4 separate regions of the Homo sapiens genome follow, and regions 2, 3 and 4 are each linked to region 1. Evidence: fine-mapped expression QTL. A gene starts in region 1. Each other region holds a variant in brackets. All regions are shown on one strand. Distances are from middle to middle. Region 1 holds the start of IDUA (alpha-L-iduronidase). Region 2 overlaps FGFRL1 (fibroblast growth factor receptor like 1). Region 3 holds the start of LOC105374340 (a long non-coding RNA gene). Region 4 overlaps GAK (cyclin G associated kinase).

Evidence for each region. PIP is the estimated chance that this variant, and not a neighbour inherited with it, causes the effect. A credible set is the group of variants that fine-mapping cannot tell apart.
Region 2: its variant is the best candidate, but not a certain one, in a credible set for the expression of IDUA in whole blood (INTERVAL, PIP 0.52).
Region 3: its variant is the best candidate, but not a certain one, in a credible set for the expression of IDUA in atrial appendage (GTEx, PIP 0.72).
Region 4: its variant is the best candidate, but not a certain one, in a credible set for the expression of IDUA in whole blood (INTERVAL, PIP 0.89).

Annotation. Positions count from the first base shown.
Region 1 is chr4:983,193-989,539 of GRCh38, reverse strand. IDUA (alpha-L-iduronidase) reads right to left here and starts at 2,496. Exons shown (of 14, transcript NM_000203.5): 1 at 2,298-2,496; 2 at 1,591-1,731. The coding sequence starts at 2,455. SLC26A1 (solute carrier family 26 member 1) reads left to right here. Exons shown (of 3, transcript NM_022042.4): 3 at 1-1,883. The coding sequence ends at 707. RefSeq lists enhancers at 1-269, 2,850-2,909, 4,085-4,134 and silencers at 2,030-2,207, 1,990-2,639.
Region 2 is chr4:1,019,079-1,026,646 of GRCh38, reverse strand. It overlaps FGFRL1 (fibroblast growth factor receptor like 1), which reads right to left. Exons shown (of 7, transcript NM_001004356.3): 3 at 4,172-4,444; 4 at 2,926-3,006; 5 at 2,546-2,830; 6 at 1,983-2,336; 7 at 1-1,742. The coding sequence ends at 1,300. Among named protein-coding and RNA genes, the nearest start is that of FGFRL1, 11 kb to the right of the region's middle. RefSeq lists enhancers at 1-400, 401-902. The variant C/T (reference allele first, on the strand shown) is at 4,156.
Region 3 is chr4:843,906-851,473 of GRCh38, reverse strand. It overlaps GAK (cyclin G associated kinase), which reads left to right. Exons shown (of 28, transcript NM_005255.4): 26 at 390-538; 27 at 1,406-1,582; 28 at 1,700-2,197. The coding sequence ends at 1,801. It overlaps LOC105374340 (a long non-coding RNA gene), which reads left to right and starts at 4,653. Exons shown (of 4, transcript XR_925033.3): 1 at 4,653-5,077; 2 at 6,089-6,394; 3 at 6,992-7,042. The variant G/A (reference allele first, on the strand shown) is at 4,148.
Region 4 is chr4:887,479-895,046 of GRCh38, reverse strand. GAK (cyclin G associated kinase) reads left to right here. Exons shown (of 28, transcript NM_005255.4): 8 at 1,038-1,173; 9 at 1,558-1,670; 10 at 4,425-4,515; 11 at 6,077-6,200. Among named protein-coding and RNA genes, the nearest start is that of GAK, 41 kb to the left of the region's middle. RefSeq lists an enhancer at 7,241-7,568. The variant C/T (reference allele first, on the strand shown) is at 2,898.

The sequences.
Region 1 (6,347 bases):
GCCCGGCTGACGCGCTGGTCTGGGCAGGCACCGCGGCCACCTGTATGCTGGTCAGCACAGAGGCCGGGCTGCTGGCTGGCGTCATCCTCTCGCTGCTCAGCCTGGCCGGCCGCACCCAACGCCCACGCACCGCCCTGCTGGCCCGCATCGGGGACACGGCCTTCTACGAGGATGCCACAGAGTTCGAGGGCCTCGTCCCTGAGCCCGGCGTGCGGGTGTTCCGCTTTGGGGGGCCGCTGTACTATGCCAACAAGGACTTCTTCCTGCAGTCACTCTACAGCCTCACGGGGCTGGACGCAGGGTGCATGGCTGCCAGGAGGAAGGAGGGGGGCTCAGAGACGGGGGTCGGTGAGGGAGGCCCTGCCCAGGGCGAGGACCTGGGCCCGGTTAGCACCAGGGCTGCGCTGGTGCCCGCAGCGGCCGGCTTCCACACAGTGGTCATCGACTGCGCCCCGCTGCTGTTCCTAGACGCAGCCGGTGTGAGCACGCTGCAGGACCTGCGCCGAGACTACGGGGCCCTGGGCATCAGCCTGCTGCTAGCCTGCTGCAGCCCGCCTGTGAGAGACATTCTGAGCAGAGGAGGCTTCCTCGGGGAGGGCCCCGGGGACACGGCTGAGGAGGAGCAGCTGTTCCTCAGTGTGCACGATGCCGTGCAGACAGCACGAGCCCGCCACAGGGAGCTGGAGGCCACCGATGCCCATCTGTAGCAGGGCCAGGCCTGCCCAGCAGCCTCTGCTCCCTCCTGGGGACCCACAGCAGACGTCTGCAAGCCACTGCTGAGACCCTTCCCAGGGAGGAGCCACCCAAGAGCTGCACTCTTGTGCCACAGCTGCCCTGGGGAAACCGGGGAACCCCAACTGGGAAAGGAGGCCCTCTGATCACACGCAGGACCCAAACACTCAGAAATCAAGAACCTCTGCCTCCGAGACAGGCTGGCCCACAGTGCTGGCTGGGCCCCAATGCACCGTCCCTCAGCTCAGGAGGGATGGGCCTGACCTGACGCTCAGGGTTGACATCTTATTTGAACAAGGGTCCCCCGCCATCATGCAGCCTCCAAGGTGCCAAGAGGACTCCCTATGCCCAGGCCTGCCCGGTGCCCACCCTGCTGGTAGGAGCCAGCGGCTCTGGCCAAGTGCACGAGGGTCTCTGTGTTTCCAGAAGGCCCCACACACCCAAGTGCCCCTCACACCTCGTGCCTCCCCCTCACAGGGTGGCCACCTGCACCAGCGTCAGGGCCCAGGGTGCTGTGACCGATGAGACCTCAGCTCAGCCCTCAGGTGCAGTGGCCCTACCCAGCCTGGCCAGCAGACACACACAGGGATGCTCACGGGTGCACCAGGAGCCAGGTGCGGCGCAGCCAACCCTGAGCCTGCAGGGAGACCTGCAGGAAGCCCACCGTGCCCCATGCAGGGGCTCCCTCCAGCACACAGCCCTCACCCCAGCACAGCCAGCAAGGACACGCTCTCCCCAACAGGGTGCTTCGGCGGGAGGTGGGGGAACAAGGGGTCTTCCGAGCAGCCCCCAGCCCTCCCCTCCCATCTGTGCCTCTGTAAGGGGCTCTGGGACGCCCAGACCCTGCCCGCCGCCCACCTGGTGGTGACAAGCTCCAGCAGCCAGTGGGTCCGGACCTGCTTGATGCCGCGGTGAGGGACGGCGCCCACATAGGCGAGGTTGAGCTGCTGGTCCCAGCTGAGGACGTACTGGTCAGCCTGGCTGTGTGGCAGCGGGGGGCTGGGGACAACAAAGGGGCGGCTCAGTCCCGAGCCTCAGCATGGCTGGCAGCGCGGCTGACACACACGTTCAAGCCCAGGACTGCCCGGGCGCAGGATCCAGGCGCTGCCCGTGCGTTCAGTGACTAATAAAATGACCCTTAGGGCCAGGAATGTGGGGAGGTCCCATCTTCATGGGGAACGGCAGCAGCAGTAAGACGAGGGGCCAACGCCAGCCCTGGCCCTGGCCCTGCCAGGAAGGCGGGTACCTCAGCTCTAGGTGGAAGGAATGGGACAGGCAGGCCAGGTCCCGCTGCAGGGCCGTCCACTCCCAGGGGAGACTCCTGGTTTACCTCAAAGAGCAGGATCCCGGGCATCGGCCTGGGCTGCAGGGGGCGGCCCAGGCTCACGCCCCGGCGCCCACTCAGGTGGAGGACCCACCCACAAACACGGCGGGGGGCGGGCCCGGGAGAGCCAGGGCCCCAGAGGAGGGAGCTCCGGTCTCTGAAGCTCTCACAGTGCGCAGTCAGGGGGCGCCCGAGCTCTCCCCGTGCGGCCAGGGGGTCCCGGAGGCCGCGGAGCGCTCACCAGAAGCCTGTGCTCCTCCAGAAGCGCCGCAGGGGCCACAGCGCGCGGGCCGCGTCCACATGCACCAGGTGCGGGGCCTCGGCCGGGGCCACCGGGGGCGCGGCCAGGAGCGAGGCCAGGAGCGCCAGCAGCGCGGCGCGGGGGCGCAGGGGACGCATGGCCACGCGTGCTCGGGGACTGCGGGGCTTCGGGCTGCACTGCCGGTTCCGCCTCCGGGTCGGAGTCTGGGCGCGCACCCCATGTGACCGCCGCCGCGGGGCGGGGCCTTGGTGAGGGGGCGATGGCCGGGTGGGAGGGGTTGGGTGGCCTCGGGGAGCCTCGGGGAGCCGGGAGCACGGCAGGGCTTGGAGCCCCGCTTCCTTGCGGGCCTCAGGGGCTGCTCTGAGGACCGATGACTCGGAAAGCGCTCAGAAGAACGCTTCGCCCGTTGGTGCTATGTGAGTTGAGCCATTACTGTCTTGTTTTTCTCTGTTTTTGTGTGTTTTTGAGACAGAGTCTTGCTTTGTCGCCCAGGCTGAGGTGCAGTGGCGCGATCTCAGCTCACTGCAACCTCCATCTCCGGGGCTTCAGCGATTTTCTCACCCCAGCCTCCTGAGTAAAGCGTGCGCTTTAGCAGGAAGGAGAATTACCCCAGAAGAGCACACTGGGCCCTCCTTACACTTGGCTTCAGATCCATGGATTCAACCAAGCAGACTGAAAATATTGTTTTAAAGCCAAAGCAATACGAAATAATACATATTTTAAAACAATACAGTATAACAGCTATTTACAGAGCATTTACATTGTTTTAGGGACTATAAGTAATCTTGATTTAAACTACACAGTAGGATGTGCGTAGGTAATGTGCAAATACTGTGCCATTTTATATCAAGTACTTGAGCACCTGCAAATTTTGGTATCTGGGAGGGTCCTGGAACCAATACCCCGAGGATACCATGGGACAACTGTAGTACATGTGTAGTCCATGTATGCATGTGTGAATCCAAGCAAACATTGTATAAAAATAATAATGGAAAGAACAGGCTTGGTGCGGTGGCTCACACCTGCAATCCCAGCACTTTGGAATTGCAGGCCAACACGGGAGGATCACTTGAGGCCTGGAGTTTGAAATCGGCCTGGGAGATGTACCAAGACCCCATCTGTACAAAAAAAAAATTTAGCCAGATGCGATGGTATATGCCTGTGAGGCCCAGCTACCCACGAAATTGAGGTGGGAGATTGCTTGAGCTTAGGAGTTCAAGGCTGAGACGGGCCATGATCACACCACTACATTCCAGCCTGGTTGACAAAATGAGACCCCATCTCTAAAAAAAGAAAAGAAAAAAAGAACAGTCTACTAACAAAACGAAAATACTGGACAATAATCCTCTCTAAGTTGGGAGAAGGATAATTAGAGTTACAGTGTTCTGGGTCTTTTTATTTTGGGGAGAGGGGTTAAAATATTGCTTAACATTAGGTCTTCTTATGTTGAAATTGCATTAAAAGTGATTAGCCATTTAAAAGTGAAATAGTGTGTATATATTCCAAATTAGCAAGGAGGAAAAACATAATACAAAAAAATTCATTAAGAAACTAAAAAGTAAGAAAGGGAGGGAAAGGCGAGAGAAACCATGCAAGTACAGAACTGTCTCCAGGAACAGCGGGGTAAGACCCTCAGTCCAACGACCCCAGAGAAAACAACTAAAATGATGGATAACTCGCTTTAAAAACAATTCCTCAAAGCGTCAGAGAACTGAGAAAAACAGTAAGAAACCACCAGTCCCACACCGTGGTGCAGGACACAGCAATGGAAACTGAATTGTTTCAGACCAGCCGCCTCCTGAGAGCAACCATCAGAACTGGAGAGCGCTGAACGGAACCGTCCAGGGCACTGGGAGCTCTGAGGAGCCTCTGAGGCCTCGGGGCTCTGCAGGGACAAGCCGGGAGGGGGCGGGGCCCGCTTTGGGGCGGCGACTCCACACCCCTGCAGCGTATCCCAGCCACACAAGACATGGCGACACGCTGCTGCGTTCGTTCCTCACACTGTGGCCACAGGACAGAAGTCGAGGCTCAGGCGGGGGGCCTGGTAAAGACTTTGGGTTTTTCTTGGGACCCCAAAGTTCTATCCCCTAAAAGCAAAGGTAAACCAGCAACAGAATTGTCTTTGTGGGGACTGAAGCCAGCCTTAAATCACCTCAAGCCCTGAGAGAATTAAGGTGAGCCGCTCACCGGGACACCTGTGGACAGAAAAGTACACCTTCCCTGGAGGAAGGTAAAACAAAACAAAAACAGACAGAAGTCCTCACTGCACGGTGCTGGAATGGATCCGGGTCAGGAAAAATTATTACAAAGTGCATGATGGGGACATTCACAATTTGGAATATGCCTTGTACATTGTGCAACAAAATTCTACCAATGATAAACTCCAGAATTTTTTTTGTTTTTGTTTTTTGTTTTTTTAAACGAAGTCTCACTCTGTTGTCCAGGCTGGAGTGCAGTGGTGCGATCTCAGCTCATTGCAACCTCTGCCTCAGCCTCCTGAGTAGCTGGGATTACAGGCATGAGCCACCACGCCCAGCCAATTTTTGTATTTTCAGTAGAGACAGCGTTTTACCATCCTGGCCAGGCTGGTCTCGACCTCCTGACCTCGAATGATCCACCTGTCTCGGCCTCCCAAAGTGCTGGGATTATAGGCATGAGCCACCGCGCTGGGTCAAACTCCAGAATTATTAAACGACTCAATGATTGCATCACGGTTGTGAATGGAGATTTTTTGTTCATTTGTGATCCATGCTGAAGGGTTTAGAGGTGAAGAATCAATAGATTTGTAACCAAAGTTGCTCTGGAAATTAAAGCAAAACAATAAATTTAGATTACATACAGAGACTGAGATAAAAGCAAAGGTAGCAAAATATTAACAGTTGGTGAACCTGGGTGAAAACTATATACTGTTATTGCAACTTTTCTGTGAGTTTGAAATTTTTCAAAATGAAAACATTGAAAAAAATATTAAAACCTCATGAAACTTAGTAAAAATTTATTGAATGATACACTTGAACTTGCTTCATTTTATTGTATGTAAATCATATCTCAGTAAAGCTGATAACGAATTGGTTTAACAGCAAATTAAATCCAACTAGGCTGAGCAAGGTGGCTCATGCCTGTAATCCCAGCACTTTGGGAGGCTGAGGCGGGCAGATCACCTGAGGTCAGGAGTTCGAGACCAGCCTGGCCAACATGGTGAAACCCTGTCTCTACCAAAAATACAAAAATTAGCCGGGCGTGGTGGCATGCGTCTGTAATCCCAGCTACTCAGGAGGCTGAGGCAGGAGAATTGCTTTAACCTGGGAGGCAGAGGCTGCAGTGAACCAAGATCACGTCACTGCACTCCAGCCTGGGCAACAGAGTGAGACCCTGTTTCAAAAAGAAAAGACAAAATTAAATGGTGTTCTTCAAGTAGAAAGAATGATGTCCCAAATCCCAGCTCAGAGGTGCAGAGGAAGAAGTGAAGAGTGCGGGGGGAAGGGAAAACCTCCCCTGCCTTTCTGAAGTTTCACTAAAAGGGTACACAGATTTCTTGGATTGTAGTTTTATGTGACACAGCAGCTTTCAGAGCAAAGACCTAAAGGCGCAGGGGAAACCACATTTTTATACTCAGGTTCTGTGAATCTGGAAATAGGATTGGACGAAAGGTTAAGACCTGACAGGCTAACAGACTCCTGGGGGAGCCCAGCGAGGCCCATCTGCTTCGGTTCCTGGAGGCCTCTCTCTGCAGCTCTCCCTCCTGCTGGGTGGGGGCACAACGCCCCGGAATAGGGGTCTGACCACATACAGTCAAACAAGGCAGGCCAGAGAATTCCTTTATGGCCAGTTTTTACACAGAAAGACAGAGAAAAGTTATTAGAGTCATACTTTTAGGTTTATGGCTGGCTTTGGGGAAAAGGGGCTTAGGTTTCTACGACCTGCCTGGGACAATGAGGGGCCAGAGACAGGAGGCAGGAGAAGGCCTGGCTTCCAAGGCCTTCACTCTGGGTGACATTTTCTGAACCCCAACAAAAGCAACAGAAACGG
Region 2 (7,568 bases), 36 kb before region 1:
TATAAATACCAAGGCCCCTTCTCTGTGTCAGGGGGAGAATGCAGTGGGGATGAGCCACTAGCCATGGGCTCCAGCCTCTCAGGCTTGGGGCTGCTGTGCCCCCAACCCCAGCCCACAGCAGTAGGGGACTCCTGGGCACCCAAGGCAGGTGGCAAAAATAGCCGCCAAGGCCAGGGGACAGAGGCGGGGATGGAGGCGGGGACTGAGGCGGGGACAGAGGCGGGCAGAGTTGGGGGAGTGACGGTGGAGCAGGGAAAGTCCCTCATCAACTATGAGCCTCACGGCACACGTACTGCAGGCTTCACGGCACACCCTCCCAAAAGCACGTCAGTCTGCGTGTGTCCAGGCAGCATATCTGCACCTGTGTGTGCATGTGTGTCCGGAAGTGTGTGCCCAGGCAGCATATCTGCATGTGTGCGTGCGTGTGTATCCGGACAGCATATCTGCACGTGTGTGCATGTCCAGACAGCATATCTGTGCACATGTGTGTGTCCAGGCAATATCTGCACGTGTGTGAGTGTTGAGGCAGCATTATCTGTGTGTGTGTCCAGGCAGCATATCTGCGTGCGTGTGTGTGTCCGGACAGCATATCTGTGCATGCGTGTGTGTGTCCGGACAGCATGTCTGCGTGTGTGTGTGACTAGACAGCATATCTGCGTGTGTCCAGGCAGCATATCTGCGCCTGTGCACGTGTGTCTGGAAGTGTGTGTCCAGGCAGCATATCTGCATGTGTGTGCGTGTCCAGACAGCATATCTGTGCACACGTGTGTGTGTGTGTGTCCAGGCAATATCCGTGCATGTGTGTGTCAAGGCAGCATTATCTGTGTGTCCAGGCAGCATATCTGTGCACGTGTGTGTCCGGATACCATATCTGCACGTGTGTGCGTCCAGACAGCATATCCGTGTGTGTGTGTGTGTCCAGGCAGCACATCTGCGCATGGGTGTGCGTGTGTATGTTCAGGCAGCATGTCCTTGTATGTTCTGGCATGTCTCTGTGCGTGTGCGTGCATTTGGGCAGCTTATCTGTGTGCCCAGGCGGCATATCTGTGCATGTGCGTGTGTGCGTACGTGTGCCTTCAGGGAGCACGTGTGCGCGCATGTGTGTGCATACATGCATCCAGGCAGTGTGTGTGTCTGTGTGTGTGTGTCCAGGGGCTATGCCTCACACACAGACTGCCTGGGGTGCTGGCCATTCCTCCTCGCCATGGGTCCCCTGCCTTCGTCTGCAGCTCCGTCCTCCATCCTCCCAGTCTGCCTGTCTGGCCGGCCCCCCCGTGCCCACTGCAGATACGGTGCCGTCTAGCACTGATAGTGGATGTGCTGGTGGACCTTGCCCTCCACGTGTGAGTGTGTGTGAGAGTGTGTGTGTGTGTGTGTGTGGATGTCTGTGTAGAGTTTGGGGTACAACTTAGGGCCAGCAACTGGGCCTGGGCCCAGTAAGTGCTGGGGGGCTGCCGGAGACCCATGCTCCTCACACAGCCCCACACCAGGGCCAGCGCTGAGGGCGGCCAACGAGGGAAGGTCCTTGTCTCCGCTGCGGTCGCGGGCCGTCCCCGGCGGGCGGTGCCCAGGCAGGGGAGGGGCAGGCGCGGGGGTGCACGGCTTCTTCTGGGCCTGGCAAAGCCACAGGAGCAGGGTGCCCAGGATGAAGACAGCGCCGGCTGGGATGCCGATGACCACGGGCCACGGCAGGCTAGTGGCCGAGGACGAGGAGGCCACAGGTGGCCCTGGCGGTTTTGGGTCTGCAAGAGCGAGAGGAAAGGAGGTAGGGAGGGGAACGCCGACACAAAGACCAGGAGAGCACCCCAGACCCATCCCAGGGGCTGTGGAGACGGTGCCCCTGGGCTGCCCTCCCTCGGCAGATGACCTGGCCAGCACGGCCCGGGAGGGAAGGGTGGGGCCCCACCCGGTGGGTGGGACGCCGGGCCCAGGGGGCGGGTCCGGGCACCAGCATGGTGTGGCGTGGCGTGGCAGCCGCGCACCTGGCAGCACGGTGAGGAAGGCGCTGCGGAAGCTGTAGCCCATGGTGTTGGCGCCAAGGCAGATGTACATGCCCGCATCGTCCTGGCGGGCACGGGTGATGAGCAGCTTATTGAGGTAGGAGCCGTCGGGCCGCGACCACACGTCACCCGTGGGCAGCACCACAAACTTCTGGCCGCCCACATCGATGGTGGAGTTGTGGCGGCCCTCGGCGCCGTACTCCACGCGCTTCAGCCACTGGATCACCGGCTTCACGTCGCTGCGCACCTTGCACTGGAAGGACGTGGTCCCCCCGAAGTCCACCGTCGTGTTCACGGGGTGCGTGCCTGTGAGCACGGGCTTGGAACGGGTCCGCTCTGTGGGAACGTGGCACGCGGGCATGGCTCCTGGGCCGCGCCGGACTCTACCCCGCCAGCACCCTGGGCCCACCAGCACCCCCAGCCCACCACCCCCAAGCCCTGCCAGTGCCCCCGCCCACCAGCGCCCCCGCCCACCAGCACCCCCGCCCGCCAGCGCCCCCGCCCACCAGCACCCCCCGCCCGCCAGCGCCCGGGGCCACACTCACGGATCACATCCACCTTGTAGGTGGCGTTGATGGCGCCCGCGCGGTTCGACACGCGGCAGGTGTATTTGCCGCTGTCCTCCGGCCGCAGGTTCTTCAGGCTCAGTGTCCACTTCTTCTTCCTGGGCTCAGCGGCCTCTGGGCGCGTCAAGGCCTGGTCGTCCTTCATCCACGTGATGTCGGGCCGAGGGTGCCCGCTGGCCACGCACTTGAGCCGCACGGAGCTACCCACGGGCCGTGCGATCACCCGGCGCCTCATCTTGGAGGGCTGTGTGAAGCGCGGTCGTGCTGCGGGGTGGGGTGGCGTGGAGGTCAGAGGACGGGGATGCAGCCAAGGGGCCGGGACAGACGGACGCCCCCCACCCCCGTCACCCCCTGCTCACCCCACTGCTGGCTGGCGGGGTCCTCTTGACCCCCAGAGGAGCTGTCGGGCCCCAGGCTCTCCTTCCCTGGGCTAATGTCATCTGCAGAGAGACGGAGGTGCACAGGGAGGGCAGGTGAGGGGGGCCCTGAGGAGCTCCCCCAACTCCCCCGTGGCCTCTAGCTCCCCCAGCCCCAGCCGGGACAGCCCTGGACACCCAGGCAGGGGGCTGCGCCACACACCCACAGCCCAGAATCCCAGGGACAGCTGGGCAAGGGCCGCTGGCCCACACTGGGCGCAGGTGACCCTGATGGGCACGGGTGGGGCTGGAGGGCCGGCCCCCATTCTGGCTCCGGGGGGTCTGCAGGCCCCGGGGGAGGAGGGAGCCGGGCCCGGCCAGCAGCTGCAGTAACCCTAGCCTACATCAAGGGGCCGAGGGCTGGTGAACAGACGAGACTCTCATACCACCCGGTCATCGTCCCCTTTGAAAGGACTGTGGGGTGGGGGTGGGGGACAGCCAGTTTTCCCATTCCACACAATGCCGAGGGGCAGGGCGTGCTGTGGAATGTCCCCTCCATCCACCCTGTGACAGCCGCTCCTTCACTGAGCCCAGGACCAGGCTGTCTCAGGCCGCACCCCCAGACCCTGCTGGGGCCTGGGCCAGGCTCCTGTATTCAGAAAACGGGCACATGTACCCTAAAACTTAAAGTAGAATTAAAAAAAAAAAAGAAACGGGCCAGCCCAGCTCCCAGGAGCTCCACCCGAGGGCCCCACACCCAGGAGCCCAGCGGAGCAGGCGGGGTGCCGGGTCCCTAGGTATGGAGGGCGTGTCTCTCTGGACACCTGTCCAAGCCCAGCGCCCGGGCCCCAGGCGCAGAAGAGAACAGAAAGGCCACGCATCCCGGCGGCTCCTCTGAACTCCGAAACCCGAGCCTCAAAGTCACAGCCGACGGCCGGCACACCCTGCCAAGGCCTCGGGCCCCAGCCCTTCTGTGGGACCACTGCCTTCGGCTCCCGCCCTCCACCCTCCGCCCTCCGCTGGGAGGAAGGCTCCGAGGCTGGAGCCTGACGGGGACAGGAACGGGACAGGATACCTGGGGGATGGTGGCAGAGGTGCAGCCAGCTGAGGTGGGGCAGGGCACCGAAGGAAGGCTTTCTGCCGGGGGCTGGCTGACTCTCGGGCCCCAGGTGTGTCCCCGTCCGCCCTCCTGCACACCCCTGCCTGGCTCCAACCCAGCCCATGACCTCTGAC[C/T]GCAGCAGCGACTAACCCAGCACGACGAGGGTGTAGTTGACGCTCAGGCTGCCGAAGCCGTTGGTGGCCTTGCACACGTACACGCCGGCATCCTCCCGCTCCACCTGCTTCACCTTCAGCCCCTGCGGCAGCACGCGGAAGCGGCTCCAGCCGCTGTGGATGGTGCGGCCATCCTTGGTCCACATGGTCAGCGGCGGCGGGTCCCCCTCCACTGGGCACTGCAGCCGCACAGTGCGGCCCAGCCGGGCCACCTGCCGTGGGACCACCTTGTCCGCCATCTTTGGGGGGCCTGCGGGTGGGACCGAGGAACAGTCAGCGAGGAGGGGCTTGGGGTCCGGAGCCGGGGGGGCGGTCAAAAGGGGACCCACGGCCCAGCACAGACCTCGGGCCTGAGCTCCACCTGGGTCACCTGCCCAAGATGAGCAGAGGGGCCGAGGTGCAGTGCCCCTGACCCAGGCCTCAGCTGCCCACATGCACCAAAGCCCTGAGCACTGGCCCAGCAAACACCACGTCAGCAGCCTCTCATGGCCGGGGCAGCCCCGTGGCCCCAGAGGCTGGCTCTTTGAGACACGAGAAGGGAGCAGGGTCCCCAGAGGATGCAAAACAGCTGCGCTTGGTAACTCTCGAAAACCACCAACCAAAAGGGCAGAGTCTCCTTCTGGTCATACAGGAAGCAGCCGTACACCCGAGGTCAGAGGGGACAGTGGCCCCCCAAGGACAAGGGCAGTAGGGGGATGGGGGGCCTGGTGGGTCCCAAAGAGGCCCCAGGCCCCTCACCTAATTCCCACCCAACCATCAGCCCAGGGCCCAGCCGGGCCTGGGCATGGGCCAGCGACCCCACAGCTATCCACAAGCAACCGAGCACGGCGGGCTGCCTGAGCCTGTGCAATGTGTGGATGAGAGTCTGTGCAGCACCCACGTCTGTGTCAATATCAGACCTGAGTTCAGGGACCACAGATGCCCAGGTCTGTCTGCCCACCCCCAAGGGCCGTACCCTGCCAGGCACCTTAGCCTTGAGGGGGCATGACCCCAAGGCCCTGGGGTCAGAGAGCAAGCCTCTGGAGAGACGTAGCTCGGGCTGACCACGGGCACTGCCGCTCCTGTCTGGGGGGCAGCCAGTATGTCCTCCCACCACCTGTGAAACCCACAGGAGCAGAAAGGCTGCGGCTCCACATGGCCACCTGCACCATCCCACCCTATGTGGAGAAGCCGAGCCCTCCTTTCCTGGCAGAGGCCTCCTTTCCTGGCAGAAAGGAACCCACCCCATCCCCTGCCTGGGTCCCCGCCCCACCCCATCCCCTGCCTGGGTCCCCATCCCACCCCACCCCCTGTCTGGGTCCCCACCTCACCCCTTCCCCTGCCTGGGTCCCCACCCCATTCCCTGCCTGGGTCCCCACCCCACCCCCATTCCCTGCCTGGGTCCCCACCCCGCCCCATCCCCTGCCTGGGTCCCCACCCCGCCCCTTCCCCTGCCTGGGTCCCCACCCCGCCCCATCCCCTGCCTGGGTCCCCACCCCGCCCCTTCCCCTGCCTGGGTCCCCACCCCGCCCCATCCCCTGCCTGGGTCCCCACCCAGCCCTGCCCCTTCCCCTGCCTGGGTCCCCACCCCACCCCATCCCCTGCCTGGGTCCCCACCCCGCCCCTTCCCCTGCCTGGGTCCCCACCCCGCCCCATCCCCTGCCTGGGTCCCCACCCCAGCCCCACCCCTTCCCCTGCCTGGGTCCCCACCCCACCCCATCCCCTGCCTGGGTCCCCACCCCGCCCCTTCCCCTGCCTGGGTCCCCACCCCGCCCCATCGCCCCATTCCCTGCCTGGGTCCCCACCCCATCCCCTGCCTGGGTCCCCACCCCATCCCCTGCCTCAGTCCCCACCCCACCCCATCCCCTGCCTGGGTGCCTCTGGGCTGGAAGGCAGGGCCAGGGTTCTGTGTGTGTGTGACCAGCCCCAGTGGGCAGTGCCAAGCCGGCCAGGAAGATGAACCTAGAACACACAGACCCTGCAGGCCTCAGAAACTCGGGGCACCGCAGGGCCTGTACCTGGATGGAGCTCCTGGGAAAGGAGGGCCCTGCGTGCCCCACTCCCCACGTGCTGCTCCCAAGTCCTGCAGCGGCGACCACAGCCCACTCACTGCTCTCCATGTCGGAGAGGCGGCCGCAGGCACCCCACAGTTCCCAGGGCATCTCTCGCCAGCCCATGGGTGACAGTGTCCATCCCGCACTGCAGCCACTGCTGTCTGGGAGCGTCCAGGCTGCGTGCAGAACACCAAGAGGTAGCAGCTGCTCCAGGCCATCTCGATGGGGCCTGGGGCCGCGTGTTCCTCCAATACACAGTTAACAGTGGCCCTGTGACGTCTCCCACTGGCGTCTTCAGACACTCAGGGAGCAGCTCCCATTCTGACCCCCAAGTCTGGGGACAGGGACCCTCACAGAGAATCCCTATCACCTCTCTGGAGGCCTCCCAATCAGTGCTGATAGCACAGGGGGCGTTGCCCAGGGCCTCTAGGTTCTGAGCCCACAGGCATCATTGGCCGCTGGGGCTGGGAGTGGAGACACGGCGCCTCCCTGCTGTGCCCAGAAACACAAAGGGTGGGCTGAGGCTCTGGAGGGAGGGATTCTTCTCAGCCCTGGCTCACCCGGCCCATCCCAGTCCTTGGCCTCTCTGAGAAAACATGTGGGGGTCTCTTCTCTGACTCACGTCTCTCCCTCAACTCAGGACCCTCCCACCCAGGCCATGGGCCCCAGCCCTGAAGCCCCTCCTTCCCTACCCTCCCTGCAGCTCCCCGGAGAGGAAATGAGATGGCGGCTGTGGGGGGCTGCCAGCCCACCACCCCCTCAGTGTGGTTCTGTGAGCTGCCCAGGGCTGGGGGCAGCTCTGGCAAATTTGTCCCGGGGAGGAAGCGGCTGCAGGGCCCACAGCACTGGGGCCTCCTGACCCCTTCCCAGCCGGCCCAGGTCCCAGACGCACCCCAGGTTGACCCCACCAGCACCTGTCGCTGCCTGAAATCCCACCACCCACAGGGCCTCCCGGGACCAAGGGGGAGTGGCCAAGGCCCCTGGCCAGCCCAGCCCCTGTGGCCCACAGCCTGCAGGGGTGCCTGGGCCTCCTGGCTGGCTACCTGGGCACAGGCCTCACACGTGCATGTTCATGGGTGCACACAAGTGTTCACCCACACAACTGTCCAGAAGAAGCAAGAGAGCGAGTGCCTGGCCCTGTCCTGGGTGGGAGCACACTGACCCAGCCCCCCACATCTGGGGAGGGAGCCCACCTCAGAGGCTGAAAGCCCCAGCTACACTTCGGGAAGGTTTCCCAGCCCCCACCCTGCCCCAGGCAGATACAAGCAAGGCTTGGTGAGGTAAGGGTCCCCAAAGGCATGCGGGAGGTGCAGGATGACAGGCACAGACAGGGAGGCGGGA
Region 3 (7,568 bases), 140 kb after region 1:
CATCAGGATGGTAGCCCTGTTCCCGGGGGCAGCAGGTGGAATTGGGCCTGTGTGTCTCTGCAGAAAGTTTCTGTTCTTAACTGGGCTTTGTGGCTCACGCCTATAATCCCAGCACTTTGGGAGGCTGAGGCGGACAGATCGCTGGAGCCCAGGAGTTCAAGACCAGCTTGGGCAACAGTGATACCTCCTCTCTACAAAAAATGTAAAAATTAGCCAGGCATGGTGGCGCATGCCTGTGGTCCCAGCTACTTGGGAGGCTGAGGCAAGAGGATCGCTTGAGGCCGGGAGGCAAAGGCTGCAGAGAGCTGAGATCACGCCATTGCACTCTGGCCTGGGTGACAGAGTGGAGACCCTGTCTCAAACAAAAAAAAGTTTCTGTTCTTTTCTAGCTCAAAAGCCAAAAGTCTCTGAGAACGACTTTGAAGATCTGTTGTCCAATCAAGGCTTCTCCTCCAGGTCTGACAAGAAAGGGCCAAAGACCATTGCAGAGATGAGGAAGCAGGACCTGGCTAAAGACACGGACCCACTCAAGCTGAAGGTGGGTGGGTGGGCAGCTCTTCCTGGGAGCCCAGAGGCCTCAACCCATGGCCCCTGGAGCATCTGCTGTGCCTTATGGAGCCGGCGTCTCCAGACAGCAACCTTTCACCCCTGGAGCATCTGCTGTACCACATGGAGCCGGCGTCTCCAGACAGGGACCTGTCACTGCCGATGGGCCTGGCAGCCCTCAAGGACAGGGTGGCCTGAGGCCAGGGGGGCAGGGCAGAGTCAGGCCCCAGGCTGTGCTGCTCCCCACGTGCCCAGATGGCTCAGCGCTGGTGGGGGTGGGGTGGGCGGGCGTTACAGGAGTGAGTGCCCCGGGGTGTTTGCAGAGACTGTTGAGGGCAGGCGTCTCTTGGGGGCTGCTCTGGGTACTGAGCCTCCCAACCCAGGACGCTCACTGGGGGGTGAGGATGCAGCGGTCAGGCTGTCACTGTGCCGGCCCTGAGACACGCCCTGCTCTGTGGCTTGGCCGATGCCCAGCTCTGCAGGCCACATGCGCCTGTGACCTTGGGGTCCTTTCACAGGCACCAGGGACCATCCCCTTCTCCCTCGGAGTCTGGGGCCTGGGATGGGCCAAGGGGTTGCACCACCAGAACCAGGGTTTGTGTCCTCGGTGAACATCTGGCTGAGACGAGGGTCCCTCTGGCCCCAGGCCCTGAAACATGAAGACCACCTGGCCCTGTGTCGTCCGGAGTGGGCTCTATATAGTTGAGGGCAGGGCGTGCAGTGGGACAGTGTCTGTGAGCCGGGCTGAGCCCACCCCACGTGACCAGGCACTTCCTCAGCGTCGTGCCTCAGTTTCCGCGGTGCAGAGGAGGAGGGCAGGCAGGTGCCCAGGGCTCGGCAAGCTCCGTGTCTCCCGCAGCTCCTGGACTGGATTGAGGGCAAGGAGCGGAACATCCGGGCCCTGCTGTCCACGCTGCACACAGTGCTGTGGGACGGGGAGAGCCGCTGGACGCCCGTGGGCATGGCCGACCTGGTGGCTCCGGAGCAAGTGAAGAAGCACTATCGCCGCGCGGTGCTGGCTGTGCACCCCGACAAGGTGAGCAGAGCTGCCAGGCGGCCGCTTGAGGCCTTCAGGGGCGGGGCGGGGGGGGGGTCCTGCCCCGCCCGCCCCCGCATGCTTATAAGAGGCGCTTACACCGCCTGTCACCCATAGGCTGCGGGGCAGCCGTACGAGCAGCACGCCAAGATGATCTTCATGGAGCTGAATGACGCCTGGTCGGAGTTTGAGAACCAGGGCTCCCGGCCCCTCTTCTGAGGCCGCAGTGGTGGTGGCTGCGCACACAGCTCCACAGGTTGGGAGCCGTCGTGGGACCTGGGTCCCCACCGTGAGGACCCCGTGGGCGACAGCAGGTGTGGCCAGGGTGGGGCTCCGAGCCCCGGGTCACCGCCCGCCCAGCGTTCCAGGCACATGAAGAGAAAGCATTCCAAAGCCTCTGATTGTTGTTTCCTTTTTCTCCTCCCGAAGGAACAGCTGATTCATGCTCCTCCCGCAATTGTCACGTCTGTGATTTATTTGGTGTTTCGGGCGTGGCCTCTGGAGCCCCGGCACGTGGTGGGCCACGCTGCTGGCGCTCATGGGCCCTGGTGTTTGCACCGCACTTTGTAATCAGTCCCGTGGTTGTCTGTACAGAATTAAACTATTTTCCGATGACTGCTGTGTCTCCAGTGTGGATCCACTCGCCCAGGTGCCGTTCACCAGCTGGGGCACAAGGCTGTGCTTCCTCAGCAACCTTGCCGTGGTTGGATTGTTGCAGGGGCCGAGTGGAGAGGAGAAGCGGGTCCCGGGGCTGCAGCGGCTCTGGGCAGCTCTTCAGGGGGCCATAGAGCCCAGCCAGGGCAAGGCCAAGGGCGGGGGCCCCTGCAGTCCCCAGACCCCCTTCCTCCCCTCGGCCCCGGGACTCCTCTCTCCTCTCCACTTGGCCCCTGCCCCTGGGCCCTGGACCTAGGAGCAAGGGTGGGCTCCACACTGCCCCTGTGCCATCCCCGCAGGGCCAAGGTGGCCTCCGGGCTGTCGGGCTGGTGGAGGACCAGGGGCCCCTGGAAGGAGAAGGTGACCATGGTGAGCCCCCACCCCACAGCAGACTCGAGGAGGCCCTGAATCATAGCCCTGAACTCACCGCCAGGCTCTTCCTGTTTTCAGAGAATAATGACTGCACGTTTGCTATGCACCCGCCACTATTTTTAGCTCTTTTAAAAAATAATGAGAAGCTAAATAGGTGCTGAGATTTTCACATCAAGGTCGTCTGGATTCCGGCTCCGGGTCTGGCCACCCCAACTCAGATGCTCCTGCTCTGGGGGCAGCTCGGGCCACGCTCCCTCTAGGCTCTCCAGCCTCAGCCCTGTGCTGTGCGGCCCCCTCCTCTCCTGCTGCCGCCCACGTCACACCCAAGCTCCAAACTAATCCCCCAGACCCCGCCCCAGACCCTTAACTCTGAAAGCTTGGGTCGCTTCTCCCCGGCCTGTGGCAAACCCAGCCACCCTGCCTGGACAAGTGAGTCCACCTCCCTCTGGCTGGCTGCACACCCTTCCTCCGTCAGGGGCCTGAGCCTCTGGTTATGTGTGGAGAGCAGCGGGTGGCCGGTCCAGGCTAGGCCGAGACTGCGGAGGATGGAGGAAGGTGTGGAGTGCAGCAGGTCACTGGTCCGGGGTAGGCTGAGATGGAGTGCATAGAATGGAGGCCAGGACGGTGGGGTCTGGGTTGCAGGACAGGAAAACCCCCATCCAGGCTGACCCAGCTCAGAAGGGAGTCTGTGGCCCCCACCTGGCCATGCTACCGCCAGAATTTCTCCTCTTCCAACCATTCAGCTCAGCATGGAGACACGCAGGTGCACAGGCATGTACAAGCCGTGCGCACACGCAGACGGCTACACAAGGTCACACACGGTGCCACCCAGACACCTGCGCACACGCAGACATGGCTGCACAGGGTCACGCACGGCGTTACCCGGACACCTGCGCACATGCAGACGGCTGCACAGGGTCACGCATGGCGCCACCCGGACACCTGCGCACACGCAGACACGGCTGCACAGGGTCACGCACGGCGCCACCCGGACACCCACACGTGAAAGGCCCAGGATGCACCATCTTCCCAGCCGGCCACTGGCCTGAGTGCTACCCACAGTCACTGAGGCTCCATTCTGCACGTGGGAGCCGGGTCTGCGGTCACCGAGCCTGTGACTATGCTCCGTCCTGCACGTGGACACAAGGTCATCCTTGCCGGGTTGTAATGCATAGACCACGTGAAGCTTGAAGAGAGACTGCACCTGTGTGACACCCCCTTGTGTGACAGCATCTTCTCGGTGACTTCACGGAGATACAAATGGCAGCGGCCAAGCAGCGATGCTCACATCACTGGTCCTGGAGGAAATGCAAGTTGGAGCCACAGCAAGATGCTGCCGCACCCACTAGGGCACCCAGTCAAGACCCACCAAGCCAAGTGTCCCCACGCATGTGGAGAAGCCCACACCCTCACGCAGTCTGGGTGGGAGCTTAAAATGGCACAACTGCTTTGGAAAACCGCTTGGCAGTCTTTTTTTTTTTTTTTTTTGAGACGGAGTCTCGCTCTGTCGCCCAGGCTGGAGTGCAGTGGCGGGATCTC[G/A]GCTCACTGCAAGCTCCGCCTCCCGGGTTCACGCCATTCTCCTGCCTCAGCCTCCCAAGTAGCTGGGACTACAGGCGCCCGCCACTACGCCCGGCTAATTTTTTGTATTTTTAGTAGAGACGGGGTTTCACCGTGTTAGCCGGGATGGTCTCGATCTCCTGACCTCGTGATCCACCCGCCTCGGCCTCCCAAAGTGCTGGGATTACAGGTGTGAGCCACCGCGCCCGGCCGGCAGTCTTTTAAAAAGCAAAATAGACGCCGGTGCGGTGGCTCACACCTGTAATCCCAACACTTCGGGAGGCGGAGGCGGAGGCAGGCGGATCACCTGAGGTCAGGAGTTGGAGACCAGCCTGACCAACATGGAGAAACCCCGTCTGTACTAAAAATACAAAATTAGCCGGGCATGGTGGCACACACCTGTAGTCCCAGCTACTCGGGAGGCTGAGGCAGGAGAATCGCTTGAACCTTGAGAGGCGGAGGTTGCAGTGAGCCGAGATCGCGCCATTGCACTCTAGCCTGAGCAACAAGAGCAAAACTCCATGTCAAAAAGAAAAAAAAAAAGCAAAATAGAAATTTCGTACACAGTTTAGCAATCTGCTCCTAGGTGTTGACCCAAGAGAAATGAAAGAGCAAGGCCACACAGACGTGTTCAGGAACAACCCATGATCCACGCACAGCTGGACATACGAAGGAGCTGTGTGCGTCCACGCCACGGGGTCCTGCTCAGCATGGAGAGGGGTGAGCTGCTGGTGTGACGGCGCCACGGGGTCCTGCTCAGCATGGAGAGGGGTGAGCTGCTGGTGTGACGGCGCCACGGGGTCCTGCTCAGCATGGAGAGGGGTGAGCTGCTGGTGTGACGGCGCCACGGGGTCCTGCTCAGCATGGAGAGGGGTGAGCTGCTGGTGTGACTGCAGCACAGGGCATGCCCAGGTGTGTTAGTCTGTTCTCACACTGCTATAAACACATATCTCAGACAGGGTGATTTATAAAGAAAAGAGGATTAATGGACTCACAGTTCCACATAGCTGGGGAGGCCTCATGAAAGTTACAATCATGGCGGAAGGCGAAGGGGAAGCAGGCACGTCTTAGCTGGTGGGAGGAGGGAGAGCGAGTGAGTAAAAGGGGAAAGTGCTGCACGCTTCCAAACAAGCAGATCTTGTGAGAACTCACTATCCGGAGAATAGCAAGGGGAAGTCTGCCCCAGGATCTAGTCACCCCCCAGCAGGCCCCTCCCCTGACATGTGGCGATTACAGTTTGGCAGGAGATTTGGGTGGGGACACAGATCCAAACCATACTGTCAGAAGAGCAGCAAGCTCAGTAAATGGGGCCAGATCAAAAGGAGGGAGGTAGTGAACGACTCCATTCGTGTAAAATTCCAGCAAATGTGAAGTCCGCGACAGGCCAGCAGCAGATCCGTGGCTGGCGGGTGTGGGCGGAGGAGGATGTGCTGGCTTCAGGCAAGCACGCGTCAAATGCCTCAAACTGTGCTCCTCAAACGTGTGCAGATTGCATTTCTGTCCTGCGGGGGCTCAGACCCTCAATAGTAAGCTCCAGTGGGTTAAGCAGGCTGCTTTCCAGGTGGCCCGTGACACCCCCCCATCCCCCAGATGTCCAGCTGCCCTCAGGCCACCTCCCTGGGCTCCCATGGGCCTCCTCTCCCTGTGCCCCCAGGGAGCTCCAGGGCTCTGAGGAAGGCCAACCCCAGAGGTGTGGGCATCTGCCCCAAGATGGAGGCCCCCCCCAACTCTGTGGGCCTCCAAGTGGGAGGACTTGGCTGCAAGGAGATGAGGGGGGCACTGAGTCATGCAGGAGGCCAGTGTGGCTGGAATGAGGTTCAGATCTGGGGGAGGGGCTGATTTTGTCCCTGAGCTGCTTTTAGCAGAAAAGCTGAGTGCTGAGGTCAGCTGAGGCTGAAGTCCTGCTTATGTCTTCATCTCCAGGAGCTCATCCCCGCTCCTGCACTGTGGCCATAGCTCCAGGCAGCCGCGCGCCGACCCCACCCACAGGCCTGGGTGGAGCTGAAGGTCTAAGCCCCATGCCAGACCCTCATCCAGGCAGCGACCCCTGGGCACAGGGGGCATGGCAGGGACACCGATTTCCTCCTCCTTCTGTCAGTTTGGACAAAGATTCCAGGGCCACAGACCACCGTCTGGCCGCCCCAAACTGCTTTCTCCAAAAGGGCTTGCCCCAAAGCTTTGCCCACCGAGTCCTGGAGCTGCTGAGCGTCCTGCCGGGCCTCACCTTAGGTAAGAAACAGCAGCAGCCTCAGCAGCTGGCTGTTCTCACCTTCACTACCTCCAGGAGCTCTGAGGAAAAGCACAGCAACCCAAGGGCAGGGGGAGGCTGTGCTGCCAGTTGGGGGTGGCCCCTGTGCGCATACCAGCATCAGAGCCCCTTCAGATGGGGTGGGAACCTGCCCCCAGCCCCAGGTGTGCCGGGCAGTCATGCGCAAGCTGAGGATGCTGGTCTCAGGTCTAGGGCACCCCCTTTGTGGAAGAGGCTGCAGACCCCGTAGATGTCATGGGCCTCAGATTAGGATAGAGGGGGCTTCCGGTTGGTCTAATGACTGGAGAAGGGCCCAGAAGAGGCAGGTCCATGCGGCACAGCCCCCACATTCTGGCCTTGGCACTTCCCCAAGATCAAACTCCAAGTCCCTGCTGCCAGCCCCCTCAGCTGCTGATGTGGTTGGCTCTGTATCCCCATCCGAATCTCATCTCGAATTGTAATCCCCACATGTTGAGGGAGGGAGGTGATTGGATCCTGGGGGTGGTTTCCCCCTGGTGAGTGAGTGCTCACAAGATCTGGCTGTTTGATAAGTGTGAGGCTCTTCTCTCTTTGTGCAGTCTCTCCTGTCGCCTTGTGAGGAAGTGCCTGCTTCCCCTTCCACCATGATTGTAAGTTTCCTGAGACCTACCCAGCCATGGGGAACTGTGAGTCAATTAAATCTCTTTCCTTTATAAATCACCCAGTCTTGGGTATTTCTTTTTTTTTTGAGACGGACTCTCGCTCTGTCCCCCAGGCTGGAGTGCAGTGGTGCAATCTCAGCTCACTGCAAGCTCTGCCTCCCAGGTTCATGCCATTCTCCTGCCTCAGCCTCCCGAGTAGCTGGGACTACAGGCACCCGCCACCACGCCCACCAAATTTTTTGTATTTTTAGTAGAGATGGGTTTCACCATGTTAGCCAGGATGGTCTCGATCTCCTGACCTCGTGATCTGCCCACCTCAGCCTCCCAAAGTGCTGGGATTACAGGATTGCAGGCGTGAGCCACCATGCCCGACCTTTATTTATTTATTTATTTATTTATTTTTTAAGATGTAATCTTGACCTGTCGCTCAGGCTGGAGTCAGTGGAGCAATCTCGGCTCACTGCAACCTCCGCCTCCCAGGTTCAAGTGATTCTTCTGTCTCAGCCTCCTGAGT
Region 4 (7,568 bases), 95 kb after region 1:
GTGGGAACCCCGGAATTTTGAAAGGAACCTTTATTTATTTATTTATTTATTTATTTATTTATTTATTTGAGACAGAGTCTCGCTTTGTTGCTAGGCTGGAGGGCAGTGGCGCGATCTCGGCGCACTGCAACCTCTGCCTCCCGGGTTCAAGCAGTTCTTTGCCTCAGCCTCCTGAGTAGCTGGGACTACAGGCATGCACCACCACGCCTGGCTAATTTTTGTATTTTTAGTAGAGACGGGATTTCACCATGTTGGCCAGGCTGGTCTTGAACTCCTGACCTTGTCATCCACCCGCCTCGGCCTCCCAAAGTGCTGGGATTACAGGCGTGAGCCACTGCGCCCGGCCTGAACGGAACTTTTTAATCTTAAGAGCCTAGAGTCCGTTTAACACTGTCACCTGGACAGTTCTTTGCGGTGAATAGAAGTGGAGCATCCAGGCCTCCCCGTGCCGTGGGAAGCACGCCGCCAGCTCCGCACAGTCAAGTGATGTTTGTGTAACCACCGACTATACCCCTAGGATCCCCAAGGAAGGAGCCACCCCTCGGCCAGTCACCATGTCTGCGGTGCTCCTCTCACGCCCTTGTCCCCTTGGGCTCGGGCATCACCCCTGCTCTCCCCTCAGACCTGGGAGTCACCCCTGCACTCCCCGCAGGCCCAGGAGTCACCCCTGCGCTCCCCACGGCTCCGACGTCACCCCTGCATTCCCCGCAGGCCTGGGTGTCACCCCTGCACTCCCCACAGGCCCAGGCGTCACCCCTGCGCTCCCCACGGCCCCAACGTCACCCCTGCGCTCCCCGCGGCCCGGGTGTCACCCCTGTTGTTCCCGCAGGCCCCGGTGTCACCCCTGCATTTCCCATGTTCCCGATATCACCCCTGTGTTCCCTGCAGTCCCCAGTGTCACCCCTGCGCTCCCCACGGCTCCGATGTCACCCCTGCATTCCCCGTGGGCCTGGGCATCACCCCTGCTCTCCCCGCAGGCCCAGGCGTCACCCCTGCGCTCCCCGTGGGCCTAGGCATCACCCCTGCTCTCCCCGCAGGCCCTGGGCTGCATCTTGTACCTGCTGTGCTTCCGGCAGCACCCTTTTGAGGATGGAGCGAAACTTCGAATAGTCAATGGGAAGTACTCGATCCCCCCGCACGACACGCAGTACACGGTCTTCCACAGCCTCATCCGTAAGTCCCGGTGGAATGCGTGCGTGGGGCAGGACCCTGGAGCACAGACCCCGCGTGGCTCTGGAGACCCCGCTCCCCTTGGGGCACTGCTCACCTGGCCCCACTCCCGCCCGTCACCATAGTTTTGACAACATCCCTGGGGGGGGGGTTTCCAGAGAGCTCCCCTGCCGCCCACCCCGCTGGTGAATTTGCGGTGCTCTGAGTGGTGATTTTTGATCATTTTGTTCGGTTTTTGTTCTTCCCTTTGCCGCTCCCTTCTTGCTTCTGACGTCACTGATGTGTGTAGAGGGAGTGGCCTCTGGTGGTCTGTGACCTCTGCCAGTGCAGGGGGTGCTGACCCGCCTGGGGAACCGTGGGGCCGAGCGCGCTGTGCTTCTGCTGCAGGCGCCATGCTGCAGGTGAACCCGGAGGAGCGGCTGTCCATCGCCGAGGTGGTGCACCAGCTGCAGGAGATCGCGGCCGCCCGCAACGTGAACCCCAAGTCTCCCATCACAGAGGTGAGGGAGGCACACGTGAGCCCCAAATCCCCCGCAGTGGTGAAGGAGGCACACATGAGCCCCAGATCCCCCGCAGAGGGGAGGGAGGCACATGTGAGCCCCAGATCCCCTGCAGAAGGGAGGGAGGCACACGTGAACCCTAAGTCTCCTATCACAGAGGGGAGGGAGGCACACGTGAGCCCCAGATCCCCCGCAGAGGGGAGGGAGGCACATGTGAACCCCAAGTCTCCTATCACAGAGGGGCGGGAGGCACACCTGAACCCCAAGTTTCCTATCACAGAGGGGAGGGAGGCACATGTGAGCCCCAAATCCCCCCACAGAGAGGAGGGTGGCATGTGGCTGTGCTGCTTCGTCCGGACCCTGCACCCTGGGGGTCTCTGCCCACTTCAGTGGGGAGCCACAAGCTCTTGAGGGCCCTGGGCTCCTGCAGGAGCAGGGTCACCACCGCAGCCCAGGGCCGAGACCCCGGGGGCATGCTGGGACCATTGCCAAGGTCTTCGCACTCTGCACGCGCTCCTCTGGCCTCCTTGAGGTTTGCAGGCGCCTTTCTAGATTCTTCCCCTGACAGGACAGCATGAATTGCTCCTGTGTCTTTGTTTCTGGGGTCTGGTGTCCAAGCCAGGTCAGCCAGCCCTCAGCTCTGGGCGTCCTGGGGTGTCCTGAGTTGCTCTGCGTCTGTGTTTCTGACCCTCAGCTCAGCTCTGGGCGTCCTGGTTGCAGTTGTGTCAGGGCTGGGCCTGGCCAGGGTCCACTCCCAGGCACCGGTGGCTGCTGGCAGCATCAGGGCCTGGGGGCTGGGAGACTGAGGCCCACAGGGCCGTGTGCTTTGTGGAAGTGTGAGGCCTGGGAGGGAGCAGCACGTGTTGGCTGGAAGATGCTTTCCTCAGAGTCTTTTCTGACCCAGCCGTGGACAGGGTGCAGCATCTCCATCACCAGATCCTCGAGGCAGAGCAGACACGCGGCCCGGCCCTCACCCACGGGGAGCAGGGAGGCCCCTGGGCATCCCAGCTCAGGGCCCAGTCAGGACACGCAGGGCCCCTCTGCAGATCTCGCAGGGGTCTGTGTCCAAGGACCCAGGACTCTTGGCTCCTGCATTTTGTCCCCTTTTCAGCCCTTGGGTCGTTTCCACTCCCTGGTAGCTGGAAGCCGGAACTTCCAGGGGCCACTGCAGTGGAGCTGACCCAGGCGGTGGGTGTGGAGCGTGGGGAGAAGGTCAGAGCTGCTGCC[C/T]GGAGTCCCTGTCTGAGGACAGGACCCTGTGGGACAAGGAAGGTTTGGGCTGTGTGGAGGGTTTGCAGTTCCTTGGGGGCCGCGTGGGTACAGAGACCTGGGAGCAGGGAAGTGCTGGGAAGCCCAGTGCAGACGGGGAGAGGCTGTGGTGCCCCTCTCTGGCGGCCATCATGGTGGGTGCACCAGCAGAGGGAGCCCTGGTGCTGGGTGCTGGAAGCATTTTGAGGTGTGGGGCGCTCTGAGGCGGGAGAGTTGATGTCACTGGTGGCCTCTCAGCAAGCTTCCCTGGGGCTGTCAGAGAGCGGCAGGAAGGGATCACTCCTGGGCCGTCCTGCTCTTTAGCAGCCTGGGCCTCGTGTCCCCCTCGCTTGGTGGCTCTTTACAGAAAATGCCTGCCCACTCCCCCGGAGGTCACAGAGGACAGTGGGCTCGCAGGGGGGTGTGGGCCTCTTGCTTTGTCGAGTGCGCTGGAGGGATTCTTGATGGGGCGGGAGGAGGTGCCGCTGGGCAGATGGGCAGAATCAGGCCCCTAGTGATGGGGCGGGGTCCTCAGTGCTTCTCATCTGAGTGCTTCTAGGCCGGGACCCCGTGGGGACAGACGTTAGACCCCTGCTTAAGCCAACCGACTCCCCCAGAAAACACAGTCCATGATGGAGCTGAGTTCACAATGAAATAAAATACTGCCCCCAGGAGGTAGTGAGCCTCACAGGGTGGCCCCCAGAACCCAGGAGCTGAAGTGATGGAACATCCTGGGACAGACAGGCCATGTGTCTGCTTAATATGGTTGGGCATGCGAGGTGGAGGCTGCAGTGAGCCCAGATCATGCCACTGCACTCCAGCCTGGGAGACAGAGTGAGACTCCGTTTCAAAAAAAAAAAAAAGAAAAAAAGCCTGGGTGCAGTGGCTCACGCCTGTAATCCTAGCACTTTGGGAAGCCGAGGCAGGCGAATTGCCTCAGCTCAGGAGTTCAAGACCAGCCTGGGCAACGTGGTGAAACCCCATCTCTACTAAAATACAAAACAAATTAGCCAGGCGTGGTGGCGCATGCCTGTAGTCCCAGCTACTCTGGGAGGCTGAGGCAGGAGAATTGCTTGAACTCATGAGGCGGAGGTTGCGGTGAGCTGAGATCGTGCCACAGCCCTCCAGCACTGCAGCCTGGGTCACAGAGCAAGACTCTGTCTCTACCAAAAAAAAAAAAAAAAATGTTGGTTGGACAGACTGGGAAGAGAGAGAAAAGGAAAAGGAACAGAAGCTGTAGCCCAAGAGTCTGAAAAGCTGGGCTGGAGTGCTGAGCACCTGCAACAGCCCCAAGCGAGGCAGGCCGCGGGGTGAGGGGATGAGGGCTGCGTGCGTTTGTTGAGTTCCAGCTGATGCTTCAGCCTGTGGGAAGTTCCTCCCTTGCACTGTGTCATAGATCAGGGGGCAGAAGGATGGGCTCTGAGGGCACCCATACCGTACCTCTGCCCGACGTGGGCAGGCGTGAGTTGTCAGTTTAGAGAACTGACCTCTGCATTTTCATTGTCACAGCTCCTGGAGCAGAATGGAGGCTACGGGAGCGCCACACTGTCCCGAGGGCCACCCCCTCCCGTGGGCCCCGCTGGCAGTGGCTACAGTGGAGGTGAGTGCCCTGTCCTGTGCCCGCCACCTGTCCCTCGCTCCTGCTGCACCCCGGGCACCCGCAGCACATTGGGATGGAGTCTGGGGTCCTTCTCTCCCGGGGCCTCCTCTCCCACCAGAGATGACTGTGAGGTCAGGGTCCCTGAGCACACCCTCAGGTTCGGCAGTTCCCTGGGGCTCACAGAGCTCAGCAAAGCTGGTGTCTTGGTGCAGTTCAGGAGGGGGTCAGGATTCGGACTAAAGCCAGCCAAGGGAAGAGGCTCCAGGGCAGGGCCCAGGAGACCGGGCCCGAGTGACCAGGCGGCCTCGCTCAGGGGTTATGTGGGAGGCAGCCTGCGCCGTGGCCAAGACCCCAGCATAGATCACATTGTCGTGTCTGGCACAGCCCAAGGCCCCAGGGAAACAGACACCCCTTTTGGGGCTGGAGGGGGCATCCCAGGTTCCTTCCCAGGAGCTGGGAATGAAGGGCCAGGCCTGCTGTGGGCAAGGTGAACCATTTACTACAGTAGCGACCCTGAGGCCAGGGGGCAGGAGCAGGCATTGGACAGTGGAGGGCGGTGGGGGAAGACAGTTCTGCCGCTAGTGTGAGGTGGCCCCTTCTGCCGCATGAGGAGTGGGCACCTGTGATGGGCCTGGGTGTCCCTGGAGGGCCCTCAGCTGGTGAGGAGTGGAGAGGGCCCTGGAGACAGACGCTGCATGCTCTTGGAACTCCGTGCCGGGAGTGTTCCAGAAGGTTCCGGGTGAGCCGTCGAGGACATGGCCCTGACAGGCAGCGGCTGGGTCTGCAGCTCTGCATGGCGCTGACCCCTCCCGACCTCGCCCCGCATCCCCACTGCGGTGTGGGAGGTTTCACCTGGGTCCTTCACCTCCGCTTCCCAGGGAGGAGCTCAGCTCCATGTCTGGGGCACCCCGGTCCGTGCAGTGTGGGTCCCACACATGCAGGTGTAGTGGCTGGCTGGGTCTCTGCTGGCTGGAGGAAGGGTGAGTCCTCGAGCTGCTGGGTTCTGCAGTGCCCCCATCTGCTCGGTGCTGCCTGGGCCTCGGTCTCCTGTCTGCATGAGGGACTTTGGCCAGGTGTTTTTTTTTTAACACCACTTGTGCCACCAAAGCCGCCTGTGAAGACCTCACTCGCAGGACCCACCAGGCCAGGGGCCACCACTCTGCCTTCACGTCCAGGGTCATGGTGGCCTGAAGCTGTGGCCGTGAGGCCGGACTATCCCCACAGACAGAGTCCCAGCCCCAGCTGTGCTGAGGCGGCCACATAGCCCTTCCGCACCCAGATTGACCATTTCCTGGGTCTCTGGAAAGGCTGAGGACAGGGTAGACCTGCCAGTGCTGAGGCCTGGCTTCCCGCTGGGTACGTGTGGGTCAGGGGCCTGGCCATACCACCCACTCCCTGCTCCTGCTGCCTGGGCCCAGCCAGCAACCTGCACCTGGGGAGGTGGGACCGAGCGCCTGGGGAGGTGGGACCGAGCGCCTGGGGCCTGGGCCCAGCCAGCAACCCGCACCTGGGGAGGTGGGACCGAGCACCTGGGGCCTGCTGAGACTGTGTCTCCCTGCAGGCCTGGCGCTGGCGGAGTACGACCAGCCGTATGGCGGCTTCCTGGACATTCTGCGGGGTGGGACAGAGCGGCTCTTCACCAACCTCAAGGACACCTCCTCCAAGGTCATCCAGTCCGTCGCTAAGTGAGTGTGAGGCTCCAGAGCCCTGGACCTGCCGCACGCTCGTTCCAGGCTGCAGCCCCGGCCCTTGCTTCCTGGCTGCGGTGGAACAGCTGGTCATCAGGCCCCACAGGGGCCCCTGAGGCAGTGGGACAGCATCACCCGCTTCTCCCAGGGAGTCGGAATGAGCCCAGCATCCCACAGAGCCAGGCAGATCCCTTTCCTTTCATCGCCTGGGGGGCAAGGCCCTGCTGAGGAGATGCCTGGGCCCTCCCCTCCCTTGCTGCAATGTCGCCCCTCACTCTGGGGCGTTCCTGGCTTGTTCCCGGGACTCTGTAAATTGGGTGAAACCTCGGTGGTGGCGCCTCACTGAGCCAGTCCTTGAGTTAAAGCCCTAGTTACTCAGACTTAGACCAGGTGAGTCCCAGCCTGTGGTGGGAGAAAGTCTCCCTCTGGGTGGGCTGTCCAAGGGCGCGTCTGTGCGGGGGTGGCCCCGACATCGGCCCACAGGCCCGGCAGCCTCTGCTCACGGAACACTGGGAATGTTCCAGAGTGCGGCCCCTCTGCGTTGCGGGGTCCATGCGCTGGCTCTTCTGAGGAGCTGAACGCCCAGGAGCACGCTGGCTGCTCATCTGGCCCTGCGGTCGCACCAGCTCAAGGGCGTCGGCTATGTCAGGAAACAGCCTAGGAGCTGGGCTGGACTGGTGCCCGTGATGCAGGAACTGCGGCCCCTGGTGGGCCCACGTTCCTTCCACAGCTGGCGACACCTTCGGGCTTTTTCTTATGTTTTTTGTTCTGTGCTGTGATCACTGTTTTGTGTCCCCAGCACCAGGTAGACGTGTGTGCACTTGTGCCTGCATGTACCGCAGCGTCTGCACATGTGAGCGTGGGTGCATGTGTCTTTGAGCATGTGTGCATGTGAGGGAATGGGTGTGTTAACATACATATGTGAACATGTGTGCATGTGTGTGTAAATGCTGGTGTGAGTATGTGCATAGGCGTGTGTGATTGCTGGTATGAGCATGTGTGCTGGTGCTTGTGAGTCCTTGTGCTTGTGAATCCTTGTGTGAGCTGAGTGCTCGTATTGTGTGCAGGCACGTGTATGAGCACATGTGCATGTTGGAGCATGTATGCGTGTGTGCATGTGTATGCATGTGTAGGAGTGCTTGTGAGTGCGCGTGAGCTGTGTGCATGTGTACACGTGTGCGAGTGCCTGTGAGTGCACGTGAACTGCATGCATGTGTACGCATGCGCGCGAGTGCCTGTATGAGCCGCGTGCATGTGTACGCATGAGTAGGAGTGCCTGTGAGTGTGCGTGAGCTGCGTGCATGTGTACACACGCATGCAAGTGTGTGTGAGCCACATGCATGTGTACGCATGCACACAAGTGCC